Linked DNA regions of Homo sapiens: region 1 is linked to region 2. Evidence: fine-mapped expression QTL. Tissue or cell type: whole blood. Region 2 holds a variant in brackets; the other region holds the start of a gene. All regions are shown on one strand. Distances are between the middles of the regions.

Evidence for each region. PIP is the estimated chance that this variant, and not a neighbour inherited with it, causes the effect.
Region 1: it holds the start of UBE2N, and the variant in region 2 is fine-mapped to the expression of UBE2N in whole blood (TOPMed, PIP 0.99).

The regions. Positions count from the first base shown.
Region 1 is chr12:93,437,934-93,446,031 of GRCh38, forward strand. UBE2N (ubiquitin conjugating enzyme E2 N) reads right to left here and starts at 4,014. Exons shown (of 4, transcript NM_003348.4): 1 at 3,922-4,014. The coding sequence starts at 3,951. RefSeq lists silencers at 3,230-3,349, 3,380-3,519, 3,670-3,879, 3,960-4,419 and an enhancer at 3,912-4,549.
Region 2 is chr12:93,467,090-93,475,194 of GRCh38, forward strand. MRPL42 (mitochondrial ribosomal protein L42) reads left to right here and starts at 425. Exons shown (of 6, transcript NM_014050.4): 1 at 425-465; 2 at 2,103-2,266. The coding sequence starts at 2,197. RefSeq lists enhancers at 257-316, 377-646. The variant G/A (reference allele first, on the strand shown) is at 4,367.

The sequences.
Region 1 (8,098 bases), 29 kb before region 2:
CATAAGCAGAGTAGGCACACAAAAAAGAAATAATGTAAAAGATTGATGTCCTTTTTAAGTGAGCTTATGGGTGGAAAACGAGACTAGCTTTAACTTTTAGCTCAGACATTGGTTCAGACAGAATATACCAAGGAGTAACAATGTCAAATTATTGCTCATTGAGATTAAGGCTCATCTATTCAGTTAGTCTATTAATATTTCAGTATCTACTATGTGCCAAGGATTGGTCTAGGCACGAATGAGCAATGCCCGGGATATCCAAGAGTCCCTAACTTCATGAAGGTTTAATGGGGAATAGAGAGAAATAAACAGTAAATAACATAACTTCGAACAGTAATAAGCACTTATACAGAAGAAAGGGAGATAGGAGGATAAAATTGTGGGGGAGGAAAAAGGGAAACTGGTTTATACGGGACAGGTTAGGTAGAGGGTATGACATATGAGCTAAGAACGGAACAACTGGACAAAGCAAGCAATGCAACAAACTGGAGGAAAGTCCTGTGACTGGAATAAGCTCAACCACTTATTGTTCAGGGTACAGCAAAGCAACAGTGTGGCTACAGTGGAGTGACCCAGAGAGAGAAGTGCAGATGCGCTCAGAAGTAGGCATCCCAAATGAATGCAGGGCCTTATAGCTAAGGGGTGGGGGGGAAGGCAAGATTCTAATGTAAGTGTGATGGAGAACCTCTACAGTTTTTAGCAGGGGAGTAACATGGTCTATATTTTAAGAAGATAACACTAGCTGCTGCTCCAAAGTAGGCTAATACAGGAGGCCAGGCAGTAAATGATGGAAGTGAACAGAGGTTTGAAAGACAGGGGGGAAAGTGTCTGATTTAGTACATATATTGAAAGCAGAACCTACAGAATTTGCTACTGGATTAGATACAGGAATCTAAATGAGATAGCAACTGGGTGAATAGTAGTCCAGAAAATCATCTTGTATTTGTAGTTAGTCATTTTACAGTAACAAGAGACAGGGGAATGTTACACTAATCAAGATCCAAATTCTGCCTCTTACCAGCTTTACCTTAGGAAAGTCATTTAAGTCAGTTTCTAGACTGCAAAATATATTGTCTAGTTCACAAAAATGTCTGTAAGAATCAAATGGTTAAGAAATCTACAAATGTAAATAGTGATCATTATAAGTTAGAAAGCATCATATTAACAGTCATGCAAATCAAGCCACCTTATTTTAACATTTTCATTAGATGAGAATGCTAACACTGATGTTATATCAACACTAAATTTCATCCTTTGAAAGTCAAAGGTCAGGCGGGGCACAGTGGCTCACGCCTGTGATCCCAGCACTGTGGGAGGCTGAAATGGGTGGATTGTGTGAGGTCAAGAGTTTGAGACCAGCCTGGGCAACATGGCGAAACCCCGTCCCTACAAAAATTAGCTGGGTGTGGTGGCATGCACCTTGCAGTCCCAGCTATTGAAGAGGCTTAAGTGGGAGGATCATCTAAGACCAGGAGATCAAGGCTGTGGTAAGCCATGATCCTGCCACTGCACTGCAGCCTGGGAGCGGAGTGAGACGAGTCTCAAGAAAAGAAAACAGAAAGAAAAGAAGAAAGTCAAAGATCACCCAGAAATAAAACAAATTAACAGTCCAATCAACAAAGTCATGTCCCTATTGCCTCAGGACAATACCGTTACCCCCATCCACCACACAGAAGTTTGTATAGTGATTGACAGAAAAGAGGCAACTTTTAAAAATAAATTCTGATTTTTTTTAAAGCATTGTCACTGATTATGGAACAACCTACATAACACAAGCATGGACACTTTTAAAAATCTAGTCTTTTAGTCTTCTGTTTAAGGATTAGAGAAAACCATCCTTTTAAGCTATAAATGACACTAAACTAGTAAGATAAAACCCAAATCAAGGTGTCATTCATTAGATAGATGTTGTCAACAAGATACCGTAAAATTAAGATTATATATCACAGTATGAGTTACTGTCTTAGTTTCAACAGCAAAATGTAAATGCCCAGTGTAAATTACTGTGTGCCAAATGGATTGAATCATGAGGACTTCAACTTATTGCCTTAAACCATTTCTGTAAATTTATAAACAAGGTTCCACAGAATTTATTTTTTCATCCAAGGCTTTCATATTACTGGGCATATCTTCATAATCAAAAATAGAAAAATGCGTGTTAAATGTTTAGTTCACTATGTATTTCAGAGAATTATCATGAATGTCAACTTGCATTATGTACTTAGTCAATAACCTAAGTAACAACGAAAACAAGGATATTTGATGTATGGCTCTATCACTCCCTATTCATTTTTCAACTGGGGCCTCAATAAACATGACCTTTGGGGACCATGTGACTGCATTATAACTAAAACCACGTTGTACGGACCTGCCAATACATATGACAATTAAAACTCCTTGGACAGAATCCTAGATAAATCCACACACAACAAATTTCGGACTATGAAGATTCACATTATTAGACTCCAGTGCTCCCTGACAATCTGTTCTACTTCTCTCATTTCTAAGAATTTCTACCATACAAAAACGTCTTATTTCTCTACATCAGCACCCTTAGGTCAGTGACATCTCCCTCATCTCAGATATATTTAAATGCAATTGGATGAAGCAGTATACAGTACATCATCCTCGAAGCCTAACAGGTCTTCCACTTAGTATGCATCTCCCCACAGATTTCACAAGAATGAGCAAGATTAACATACACGTTCACCAGGTTATATCAAGCAAAATGATGCTGCAATTGAGTCACTTTAACTGGCGCATTTAGTCACATAAATGTGCAACTAATTTCCTTCATAAAAACCGACACAAAAATTTAAGGTTTAGTTGTTGTGATGACAAGGAATATCTCACGTCTGAAGACTTGTCGATATTTCCTTAAGACTTTACAAAATCAAAGAATCGAAAATGTCATGGTTCCATACATACTTGTCAAAACACAGTATTCATAAACAGCCAATTAATAATTAAAACGCACAAAATTGAGGGGCAAAAGATTTCACGAGATCCCCCACAGAGGCCAAGGTAGGAAGATCTCTGAAGCCAGGAGTTTTGGAAGCCGCCTGGGCACTATAGCGAGGCCTCATATCTACGAAAAAGAGAGGAGAGGAGAGAAGAGGAGAGAGAAAGAGAATCCCCCATAACTGCGGCCCTCCCCCAGCCTTGTGTTAAAACTATTTCCTCGGAACAGCTCTGAAAGAGTTTGCCAACCAGAGTAAAATCACTTCGCAGAGATAAACGAGCGGAAACGTATTCAGAAGAGAGAGATCGCGGAAGCAAGGGCAGCGGGGCGCGGGGCCCCCACGTCCCGGGACCCAGGCAGCCGCGGCAACCAGGGGCGAGCATGTGCTGACCGCGGCAGGACGCGCGGGCCTCCCAGAGCCACTTCCCGGGGCGCAGGGCCCCGCCCGGCCTGACCCTCCCGGTTCATTCATTCTGCACCCGCGGTTGCCGCACCTCCGCGGCCCCGTCGGGGCGGAGAAGAGGGGCTTGGCTGCCGAGGGACCTTGTCGGGCCACAATCCCCACCAGGCGCCCGAGCCCCGCCGCGATTCCCGCGCGCCCGCGGCCTCCGGCGGGGGGGTGGTCTCAGAAGCTATGGAGGCCCGCGCCCAAGCCCAGAGACCCCCAGCCTTGCCGCCCCACCCTCCGCCGGGGCGTGGGACAGCACTCCCTGGCCCGCCGGGCAGCCGCCTGGAAGCCCCGGGTCCCCGCTGTCCGGCTGCCCCGCCGCGGCCGGAAGTCTCCCCGGCGCCCCCTCCTCAGCACCCGACTTCCCTCGCCGCCGCGGCCAACCCCTCTCCGCGCCGCCTCGGGCCTCCCAGAGCGGGCCGCGGGCCGAAGGAGGCGAGAGGCCGCGCTGCCTGCCCAGCTGAGCCGACGAGAGCAGAGCGAAGAGCTGGAGGCCGGCCTGGGCGGTTACCTTGATGATCCTGCGGGGCAGCCCGGCCATCTTGTCAGAACCCGAGTTCGGCCTCTGGTCTCGTCTCCGGCTCCTCTCGCCTCACGCACGAGTGGAAGTCCCGGGCTCCACTTCCGGGGGACGTTGCCGCGCCCGTCGCCGCAGCCGCCGCCGAGGCCCCTCGGGAAATGTAGTCCCTGCTCGGGCGCGGGCTCGGGCACGGGCGGGCTTCCCTCCGACCTGGCCCCCTCCCCCGTGCGCCCCGCCCCAACCGCTGCCGGGGATGGCGGAAGTGACGCTCTGTTGCGGGGCAGGGACTTGGGACAGGCCGCGAGGGGAGGCGCGGGGCTCTGGCGCTCGTGGCCGAGCCTGCCCGCGACGGTGGTACGGCACGACCCGCGCGCGACTGCGCGCGCGTCTCTCTTAACCGTGGCCACGCCCGCGCCGGTGGACGACGTAACAGAGGCCTGGCCTACGACGTATCCCATTCATTCATTCACGCGTTCGTTCTTTCAGCTCACGCGTTCGTTCTTTCAGCTCAGCCTGCATTGCGCGCGTTCCCTGCTGGCTCTGCAGTGAACGACTGAGGTGGGGCTCATCGTCTTGCTCCTTCCTCAAAGGGAGGGCAAGACCGAAACTCGGTGGCAAAGCTCTGACTGGGGGTCTCTCCAGTTACTCACACGCTGTTGGGGGAGTTTTGATGTTTAAATTGTATAAATCGGACCTCTGACACGCCCCTAGGCCCAGGGTAGGCTGAAGGAAAAGGGTTTGGAGCGAGTTGGAGGCGGGAAGAATGGTTCTGAACGCCTAGACCTAAAGGTTGAGACTCAGAATTGTTAACAGGACGAATGACCAAGGAGAGGTTTAAAGAACCCAGAGTAATCCGTAAAGCAGAGATTACCTATAGAGTGCGAGGTCCTATGAGAGAATTAGAGTGGGGGTGCCCGAAAATTGAATTGTTGGGGAAGCGTTTTATCCTGATGACGGATGGTTTGCTGTGTGATGGACTGTTTGCAAGCACTTTACTTCATCTTCACAGCAATCGTGAGGAGGTGTTGTTTCCATTTTACAAATGAGGCTTAGATAGTTAACCTTTTCCAAGGAGCTGTTTTGTCCCCAGGCAGATCCGCCAAGACCTGGCCCTTAACTACTTAACCACAGTGTTTCCTAGCACACTAACAGACAGTAGATGGTGAATAAATGAAGACAAGACTGACCGTGCCTTCCAGGAACTTAGATTCCAATGGAGAAGAGAGACCAGTAAACAATTAGTTACAATCCAATGTGTTAAGGGCTGTCTGTAATACAGGTTCCTCCAAGGTGCTATTTTAGCAGAGAGGCATTAACTGCTTGAGAACTCAGGGAAGCCTTCTTAAATAAGTGAAGTCCTCAATGATGAGTAAGAACCTACCTGACCTTGTAGGGAAGAGTATGCCAAGCATAGGAAATGGCCTGTGAAATGGCATTGAGCTATGAGAGAGAAAAAATAGTGCACTAAAGAAACTGGAACTCTGAATACAAGAAACCTACTAAGAACAATAAGAAATATTTTGTGCTGGCACGATGCTAAATGGTTAATAAATTTAATACATCATTCAATTATGAAACAGATGAAGTAGTCTCTATTATTAACAGAACGTTTTAGATGAGAAGCCAAGGTTCAGAGGTAATAATGAGAATTTCAAATAACCAGAAGTCTGCAATAGGTGGTTCTGTGACTAGAAGAATCTGCAAAAGTAAATGAAACTGGACAAAGATACTTTTCAGAATATTTTATAGAGGACCCAGGATAATTCATGCTGGTAGGCAGAAAGGCAGAGTGCTATTGTGTTGGGAGTGTGTAGGTCTGCAGTCTGGGCAGGGCTTGGCAGGAAGGCACACTCTGCTTGTGCTGCATCAGCCTGTGCAACCAGAAGATTGGCTTCCATGATGGTTCACAAGGCGGGCAAGTTGGTGCTGGCTGTTAGTTTCACTCCAAGTGGGCCTCTCCCTGGGGCATCTTGGGCTTCCCCATTGCATGGTGGCTGGGCTCCAAGAGTAAGTGTTCTAGCAAGCTGAAATGGACACTAAATCGCCTTTTTTGACCCAGCCGTGGAAATCACATGGCCTCGTGGAAGTCAAATGGCATCACAATAACCATAATCCATCAGTCAATCAGCCACAAAACTCACCCTGTCTCAAGGGGCAGGGAACATGGACACCACCTCTTGAAAGGGGAGCTGCAAGACTCTAGGAACTAGCAGCATATATGTGATGGAAAGTATGGTTGTGGCCAATTTTGGGAAAGAAACTGCCACATGTACAATATTTGTCAGAGTATGCTTACCAGCCACCCGCCTTGGAATCATCTAGGGCACTGTTTTTTGTTTTGTTTTGTTTTGTTTTAAAAAAAGCATTCCTGCAGCTGGAGCCCTTCCCCCAGGGATTCTAATTCTCTAGGTCAGTGCTGAGACCTGGGAATCTGCATTTAAACATCAGGGGTAATTTTGATGGATACTAACACTTGAAGACAAAAAATTCTGAACAAACGAGAACAAAAAAAACAATAAGCAAAACAAAAAGAGGTGCCAGGTGCTTTTTTTTTTTATGTTTTTGAGACAGAGTCTCTCACTGTCACCCAAGCTGGAGTGCAGTGACATGATCTCGGCTCACTGCAACCTCTCCCTCTGAGATTCAAGCAGTTCTTCTGCCTCAGCCTCCAGAGTAGCTGAGATTACAGGCGTGTGCCACTGCCCCCTGCTAATTTTTGTATTTTTAGTAGAGATGGAGTTTCACCATGTTGGCTAAGCTGGTCTTCAATTCCTGGCCTCAAGTGATCCTCCTGCCTCGGCCTTCCAAAATTCTGGGATTACAGGTGTGAGTCACTCCACCTGGCCTCCTTTTGTCTATCTTCTATTAGAACAGACAATAAGTATCATTTAGGTTAAGAGTGAGAGCTCTGGAGCCCCCAGTCGGGGTTTGAAAACACACTTTGCTTAATTTCTCTGTCCTTTGTTTTCTTCACCTATTAAATATACTTACCTTCATGTGGTTGTTGGGAAGTTTAAATGATGTAATTTGTATAAGGTACTTAGAACAGTACACAGCACTTAGCAATCACTTATTTTTTGTAATTTGATAGAACCATGTGTAGTTTTCTTTAGGAAACCAGATTTTTAAAACTTGATAGTATAACCTTGTTTGGTAGAGATTGCTTTGATGGCATAAAATTCTCTGAGAGTATTAACACTTTAACATATACATTTTTCCTGTCTCTCCAAATTGTTTTTTCTGTTTTCTTCCCCTCTTGAGGACAGCTCGCACTAAACTCATCTGGAAACGAAAATCTGAACTTCCGATTCATATAAATCCTGTGGAACAGGATATACTCTAGAAGAACAGGTTGTCACAGGGCTGAGATACGGTTCTCAAATTAGAGGGCTAGTTAAGAATCCTATTTACTCTAATACAGAGATAGACAACAAAACAGTGGTTACCTGGAGCAGGTTGTGGGGTGGAGTGATGGAGAATCAGAGATGTAGATCAGAGGGTACAAAGTAGCAGATATTTAGGACAAGTCTAGAGAGTTAATGTACATGAGAACAAGCCTAGAGAGCTAATGTATATGAGAGCTATAGGTAATAAGTTTACGCTATGTATGAGATTCATGCTAAATAAGTAGATTTTAGCTACTGTTGTCACAAAAACATAGGTAACTATGTGAGACGATGGATATGTTAATTTGCTTCACAATAGTAACCTATTTACTATTGATACGACATATTCCATAACATCATGTTGTATACCTTCAATATAAACAATAAAATAATTTTATTTGGCCACGCACAGTAGCTCACCCCTATAACTCCAGCACTTTGGGAGGCTGAGGCAGGTGGATCACTCAAGGTCAGGAGTTGGAGACCAGCCTGACCAACACGGTGAAACCCTGTCTCTACTAAAAATACAAAATTAGCTGGGTGTGGTGGTGCATGCATGTAATCTCAGCTACTTGGGAGACTGAGACAGGAGAATCGCTTAAACCTGGGAGGCAGAGTTTGCAGTTAGCCGAGATGGCACCATTGCACTCCAGCCTGGACAACAAGAGCTAAACTAGGCCTCAAAAAATAAATAAAATAAAATAAAATGTTTTGAGGCAAGGTCTCACTTGTTGCCCAGTCTGGAGTGCAGTGGTGCAAACATGGCTTACTGCAGCCTCAGC
Region 2 (8,105 bases):
CATACCGAGACCTCGTCTCTACAAAAATATTAAAAAATTAGCTGGGTGTGGTGGTGTGCGCCTGTAGTACCAGCTACTCAGGAGGCTGAGGTGGGAGGCTCTCTTGGGCCCAGGAGGTAGAGGCTGCAGTGAGCCGTGAGGGAGCCATTGCACTCCAGTCTGGGTGACAGAATGAGACTGCCTCACAAAAAAAAAAAAAAAAAAAAGCTTGTTACTTTCTAAGGGTATGTGTTTGGGGCAGTGATTTTGTTTTTCTGGGCACCTTAGTAACACTGCGGCCACGCTTCCCCAACTAAAGGTAAAAGTCCATAGCAACAATCCTCCCTTTCTCTCTGCACCCGGGCCGCTTTCCCGCGGAGACTACATTTCCCAGAATGCCCCGCGGGCTGGGACGGCGCGCGCAGCGCTGTTTCGTGGGACCAGGATTGAAACAAGATGGCGGGTTCGTGGTGAGAAGCCGTCAAGGTAACCGCTTCCCTCTACTCCTCCTGTCGAGGACTTCCTCGAAACTGGGCAGTCCCACAGTGTTGGTCGGCAGTTGTAGAGGTCTCCCGCCTGTCGTTCCCGGCAGGGCGAGGTTGCCTGCATCCCCAGCCTTTGTCCTTCCTGCAGAAGAGCCGGCATGTGGCTGCGCGTTTCTTATAGCGCCCCCTTTGTTCCCTGGCGGACGCCCGTGGGGAGGTGATGCAGCTTGTGGCTCTAGGGACTCCTTTAGGTCGAAGAGTTCTGGTGCTCTTGGTAGCCTGTTCCTCAAACCTCTGACCCTCAGAGGCTCTGTAGCTTTTGTTTTGGGGTTGAATTCCGGGCTGAGGGACTTGATCTCTGAAATGATCTTCCTGGGGTGAATAATCTGACTCCCAGCAGGGCGTGCTTTTCTCTGGGCTTCGGACAGAGGGGACCTAATTTCCCCCAAGATGTTTTATTCGTGGTCAGAAGTCATGGGTTTACGTCCCACGCATGTATTAAGCAGCGATATACTGAGCAAGTAATCGATTGACCTCTCTGAGCCTTTGTTCTTAATCTGAAATGGAGATGCTGCTTCACACACTTGTGAAAGTCAGAGCACATATTGTATATGAAAGTGGGTTGTAAACTAAAAAGCACACCTATGAGCTCAGGGTTAACGGTGTTAATGTACTGGCAGTGCAAGGTATCAGTGTGAGTGGTTTAGACTAGCAAATAAGAGGGCCTGTGTCCTAATTCTCTTTTATCACTATTGGGGGGAAGGGCACGGATACTCATTGAAGACTATTAAAAACAAGATTTAACAATGGTTATTTGTCATTTATTCACAACAGGCCATGAAGATTGTGGTTTTCCCCATTTTGTCATTGGAGAAACTGAGGATCGTTTAGTTAATGACTTGTTTAAAGTTTCCCAATTTGGCAGTGACTGACTCTAAAGTCCTTGGAAGCAAGACGTTTAAATTTTGTACTTTAGTTTCTTCATGAATCAGAATAAAGATACCTCACATGATTAATACGAGAGCAAAATGAAATGGTGGTGAAAGTACGTTGGAAAGTTAAAGACTTTGTACACATATAAGATGGTGAAATTTTATCTGGGACTTGAGGGCATTTATGAGTTCCTCCAATTGAGTAATAGGCTAAGGATAGGCCTTGTTTGATATTTCTTTATTATTATTATTATTATTAATGGCTCAGGGCAGACAACTATTTCATTTAATCAGAAACAGGATAGTACTGTAAATGATGTAGTATCTTGTGTATGGAACCTTGGAGGGTGTACACAGCCACACTAGCATTAAAAGAATGAATACTCTGTGTACCATTTGTGAGTGACTGTTTCAAGAGTAATTACACATTTACTGAGTATTCATTAAGTGGAAGGAGCTGCACTGGGTCCTGCAGAGAAGTTTGTATCTAAGATAAATAGTAATGGACATAGTTCCAGTGGTTCTGATCTTATATTCTGTCCATGTCGCTCTTCGTCCTGTTGTTCAATCATGTGGAATTGCCAAGTTGTTTAAAAGCATTGCTTCAGTTGACTTCTAGGCAGTGATTCTTACCTTGTTCTTGTGGTGTTTAATATAACTTAAATTTACCATAGGTAGCACTGATTTTTCTTTATCTCTTCAGCAGGAGTAGAAATTGGTATGCTTAGAAGCAGATTCTAAAAGCAGTTTCTCTTCAGAACATCTTTTTTCATACCACTTGATAAGCATCTTGAAACACCATGGCTGTAGCTGCAGTAAAATGGGTGATGTCAAAGAGAACTATCTTGAAACATTTATTTCCAGTCCAAAGTAAGTGAAATTTTTTTTAATGTTTAAAAACTTTTAAACTTTTAAGAATTAAGAAAATTTAAAGCATTTAGTTATTGTATATGCCTGTAATTTGCAGGAGTGTTTGCAGCAATGGAAAGTGGGAGAAAACCTAAATGTCAGTCAGAAGGGGAATGGATAGGTCAGATGTGGTGTCTCATGCCTGTAATCCCAGCACTTTGGGAGGCTGAGGTGGGAGGATTGCTTGAGGCCAGGGGTTTGAGACCAGCCTGGGCAACATAGCAAGACCCCCACCTCTAAAAAAAAATGTGGGTTGGGGAGGGGAATGGATAAATTATGGTACATCTGAACTGTGACTGTCATGTAGCTGTTACTGACATGGAAAGATCTCCAAATAGAAACAAAAAAAGCATGTCAGAACCACATCTATATATATCTATCATATGATCTTATTTGTATGTTTAAAAGATGATCCATCATATGCATGTGTGCATATGCATAAATGCAGAGGTAAAAGGTCTGGACCAAACAGTGGTTATCTGTGTAGCCCACTCTTGGGATTTGGCTGAGGGCAGGAGTAAGGGACTGGTCAAGGGTAACTTTCTCTTGTTCGATTACATGTATTACTTTTTTAGTATTTCTCTCTTTTTTTTTTTTTTAACGGAGTCTGGCTCTGTCGCCCAGGCTGGAGTGCAGTGGCGTGATTACTTTTTTAGTATTTCTTAAAATGTGCGAATAAAGGGTAAATTCACAGTCCCATCTTCCAAAGATAATCATTGTTAATATTTTGGTGGATTGTCATTGTGTTTTTTCTATGTACCTAGCCATTTTTAAAAAAATGAAATGTAATTTCTGCCTTTCTTTTCTAAAGAACTGTATATAGTTAGTATTTTCTCGAAAGCTTGTTAATACATGTTTGACAGTCAAAGCATGGACCCAAATAAGTAAATAGAGTATTAAAGTCTTTTTTCTCAGCCAACTGTGCTTTCTTTTTCCTTTTCCTGTCTGTAAACAGAGTTTATAGCTCTTATAAACAGCTCTTATAGGAAGCTTTCCATTTCTAAAGTAGACATGTATAGAAGGCAACAGTAGGTTTGCCTTTTTATATTAAACTATGTGAGCCAACTTTTTATTTTTATTTTTTATTTTAGATTCGGGCGTACATGTGCAGGTTTGTTACGTGGATGTATTACATATACTGAGGTTTGGGCTTCAACTGAACCCGTCACCCAAATAGTGAACATAGTACCCAATAGGTAGTTTTTCAACTCTTCCCTCCATCCCTCCATTCTGTTTTGAGTCCCCAGTGTTTATTGTTCCCATCTTTGTGTCCATATGTACCCAATGTTTACCTCCTACTTGTAAGTTAGAACATGTAGTATTTGGCTGTTTTTGCATTAATTCACTTAGGATAATGGCCTCCAGCTGCATCTGTGTTGCTGTAAAGGACATGATTTTATTTGTTTTAATGTCTGTGTAATAATCCATGGTATGCATATACACCACATATTCTTCCAGTCCACCATTGATGGGCTTGTTTCCATGTCTTCGCTATTGTGAATAGTGCTCTGATAAACATGCAAGTGCAGCTGACTTTTTAAATACAACTCTGCTTGACCTTGACCTTTGTCTCTTCTTTCTTATTTCCTATTTACCACCATTTGTAATTGAAAGTTTGCTTATTGAATTAGGGAGAAAAGAGCTATTTGAAGAATGGAGTATAAGTAAAGTAATAAATAGGCAATTTGTTATGCTTGAGACGAGGAAAATATTTTACTCAGTAAACACCTTTGTTGAATAGAATGCTCAAAAGTTTGCCAGATCCTACTCTATTTTATTTTATTTTATTTTTTGAGACTGGATCTTGCTCCCAGGCTGGAGTGCAGAGGCATGATCTTGGCACACTGCAACTTCTGCCTCCCAGGTTCAAGTGATTCTCCTGCCTCAGCCTCCCGAGTAGCTGGGATTATAGGCACCTACCACCAGGCCTGGTTAATATTTGTATTTTTAGTAGAGGTAAAGTTTCACCATGTTGGCCAGGCTGGTCTCGAACTCCCAACCTTAAATGATCCTCCTGCCTTGGCCTCCCGAAGTGCTGAGATTACAGGTGTGAGCCATTGC[G/A]CCTGGCCTAATTTTTGTATTTTTAGCAGGGGAGGGGTTTCACCATGTTGGCCAAAACTGGTCTCAAACTCCTGACCTCAAGTGATCTGCCCACCTCAGCCTCCGAGAGTGCTGGGATTATAGGCATGAGCCACCGCACCTGGCCACCAAATCCTGCTCTTATAGGAAGCTTTCCATCCCTGCTTCCTTGCTTGCCCCACTCTCCCATTTTTTAGGGCCCTAAACATAGAAACATTTATTACATTATATTCAAAGTAAAATCAACTTAGAATTCAGTAAATAGAACAGGACATTGCTTAAGAGACTTTGGATATAAACCAAAATAAGTCACAACAAAACTGCAATCAGCTTTTGATTATCTAGGAGCATTTTTGTTGTTGAGAATTGGGAGAAAGACCCTTACTCTTACTTCTTAGATTCCTCTTTGCCTTGCAGGAACCCAGCTCCTAGGCTAATGAGAAGTCACATCCAATCAGTTTTTACATAGACTATGTTTTGAAACAATTAGTCCTCACACAGGCCCATCAGAAAACCAGTTAATGTGTCCCTGAATAATTGAAAATTATTTATATATCTTTTTCCCCACTGGATTTCCCACTAAGTTTGTACTGGATCTAATTCATTTTGGTGTCCCTGGGGCCTCTCATTCATGATAGGAGATCTATCAGTGTTTGTTCAAGTAATCTGAATGGTTTAGAGTTAACTCTCAAAATATCTAGTTAACTAAGAATTAGGTTACCCTAGAAAATCATTCCATTATCAGTTATCCTAATACTCAGTGACCTAACTTCTTATATCCGAAAAGTCCCTTATACTGCAAAGTTCCTGTTGCTACTATTATTGAAAGTAAAGGGCTGGGCAGGGTGGCTCACACCTGTAATACCAGCACTTTGGCAGGCTGAAGCAGGCTCTGAAGTTTGAGACCAGGCTGGGCAACATAGGAAACCTCATTTCTACAAAAGTTACAAAAATTAGCTGGGCGAGGTGGTACACGCCTGTGGTCCCAGGAGGGAGCCAGCTTACTCAGGAGGCTGAGGTAGGAAGATTGCTTGAGCCCAGGAGTTCGAGGCTGTGATTGTGCCATTGTACTCCAGCCTGGGAGACAGAGTGAGACCCTGTCTCAAAAATAAAAAATTAAAATTAAAGAAAGTTTCATTACTGTTATTATTGATGTTTAATAAAAAAGGGAAGGACAGTAAGATTGGAGGCAAAGCGAAATCATGATTAAGGAAGAAAGTTCAGTGAGCAAAAATAAAAAGCCTTCCTTATATTCTAGAAGGAATATTTTAAAATTTCCCAAATGGTCAGTCAGCCCGGGAGTGTAGAACACTTCACAGTTTTCAAAGCATGTTAAGCCATTTGATCCTTATAACAGCTTTGATTTTGGTAGCCCATGTAGTATTATCCTCTTTATGAAGGTAAAGAAACTTGAGTTCTGTGGCCCTCATAAGTTCACCCAGGGTCACATATTTGGTAAACAAAAACTGTGACCAAAATCTGGATCTCCCACCTTACTTTGTCCTGTATACTTTCTACTGTACTTCCTTTTCTGTAGCAAGGTAAAATACTGAGCATTTGAAGATGGGACAACTTTTAGCTTTCATAGCTCTTTCAAAATGCAATTAAATATATATATGTAACAAGAATAACTCATAAATTACAGAAATTATTGTTAATTGAAATTCTTTTGGCACATTGAGCTTAATTGCTGTTAACTTTGGCATTGGTCCTAATTATATATTTAGAGCTTCTGCTACTTCTATATCCAGAATTACTTCCATTGGTAAAATATCAGGTAATGAATGTTTCCTTATTTTTTTTTCAAGGTGAAGTCTCACTCTGTTGCCCAGGCTGGAGTGCAGTGGTGCAGTCTTGGCCCACTGCAGCTTCGACCTCCCTGGGCTCAGGTGATCCTGCTATCTCAGTCTCCCAAGTAAGCAAGACTACAGATGTGTACTACCATGTCTGGTTATTTATTTATTTATTTATTTTTGAGATGGAGTTTCACTCTTGTTGCCCAGGCTGGAGTGCAATGGCATGATCTTGGCCCACTGCAACCTCCGCCTCCCAGATTCAAGTGATTTTCCTGCCTCAGCCTCCCAAGTAGCTGGGATTATAGGCATGTACCACCATGCCCGGCTAATTTTGTATTTTTAGTAGAGATGGGGTTCCACCATGTTGATCAGGCTGGTCTCGATCTCCTGACCTCAGGTGATCTACCCACCTCAGCCTCCCAAAGTGCTGGGATTACAGACGTGAGCCACTACGCTTGGCCTATGTTTTGTATTTCTTTGTAGAGATGGAGTTTTGCCATGTTGCCCAGGCTGGTCTTGAACTCCTGGGTTCAAGTGATCCACCTGCCTCAGCCTCCCAAAGTTCTGGTATTACAGGCGTGAGCCACCATGCCCAGTCCTTATGAATTTTTCAAACATCAGTTATGCAGAAACATTTGAGAGGCAGTTCGGCAATCACTTTTTAATGTGTAGGCACTATAGGGGACACAGTAATGAACAAGGTACAGTTCCTGGCCTTAAGGAACTTATTTAGACTTGTAGGTGAAACAGACATCTAGCAACACTAAGAATGCCCAGAATATGAGGCAGAATGTGATAAGTGTGTCATGAGGGCACAAACAAATGTCTGTGTAAACACAGAGTAGAAATTTTACTGAGTTTCTTGTTAACTAAAATACTGTTGTCTTGAGTTTTCTTGTCTGCATATTTCAGAACACTTAATTCTGTCACCCAGTCATGTTTCTTTCAGTGAAAATGTATATCATCTAGTTGGTTTATATTCAGAGATACAAAATTGTTTTTTTTTAATTTATATTTTTTATTATTAATTTTTTTTTAATAGAGATGGGGTCTCACTATATGACCCAACTATGTTGCCCAGGCTGGTCTTGAACTGCTGGATCAAGCGATCCTGCTGCCTTGGCCTCGCAAAGCGCTGAGATTACAGGAGTGAGCCACCACACCCCACCAGTTTTAATTTTTTTAGAAACGATTTTGCTCTGTTGCCCAGGCTAGAATTCAGTGGCACAATCATAGTTCATTGCAGCCTCACCCTCCTAGGTTCAAGTGATCCTTCAGCTTCAGCCACCTGAGTAGCTGGGATTATAGGTGCATGCCACCATGCCCAGTTAATTTTTAAAAATAGTTTTTAAAGATAATATCTCACTGTGTTGCCCAGGCTGGTCTCAAACTCCTGGCCTTGAGCAGTGTTGGCCTCCCAAAGTGTTGAGATTACAGGCGTGAGCTACCATGCCTAGCTTTATAAACTTCTTTTAATATTAACCCAATCCATGCATAATTAGGAAGGTCCCAGTGATGTCAAACAAGAAAATAAAATATGGCCAGGTGCAGTGGCTCACACTGGTAATCCCAGCACTTTGGGAGGCCAAGGCGGGCTGGGCTGATCACCCAAGGTCAGGAGTTCAGGACCAGCCTGGCCAATATAGTGAAACCCTGTCTCTACCAAAAATACAAAAATTAGCCGGACATGGTGGGCGCCTGTAATCTCAGCTACTCGAGGGACTGAGGTAGGAGAATTGCTTGAACATGGGAGGCGGAGGTTGCAATGAGCTGAGATAGACAACTCTTTCTTCTGTGAAGAACCTTGGGGGCAGGGAGAGTAAAAAGGATTTCATGGAAGAAGAGTGTTTGACCTTTTTTTTTTTGAGATGAAGTCTCACTCTCGCCCAGGCTGGAGTGCAATGGCACGATCTTGTCTCACGGCA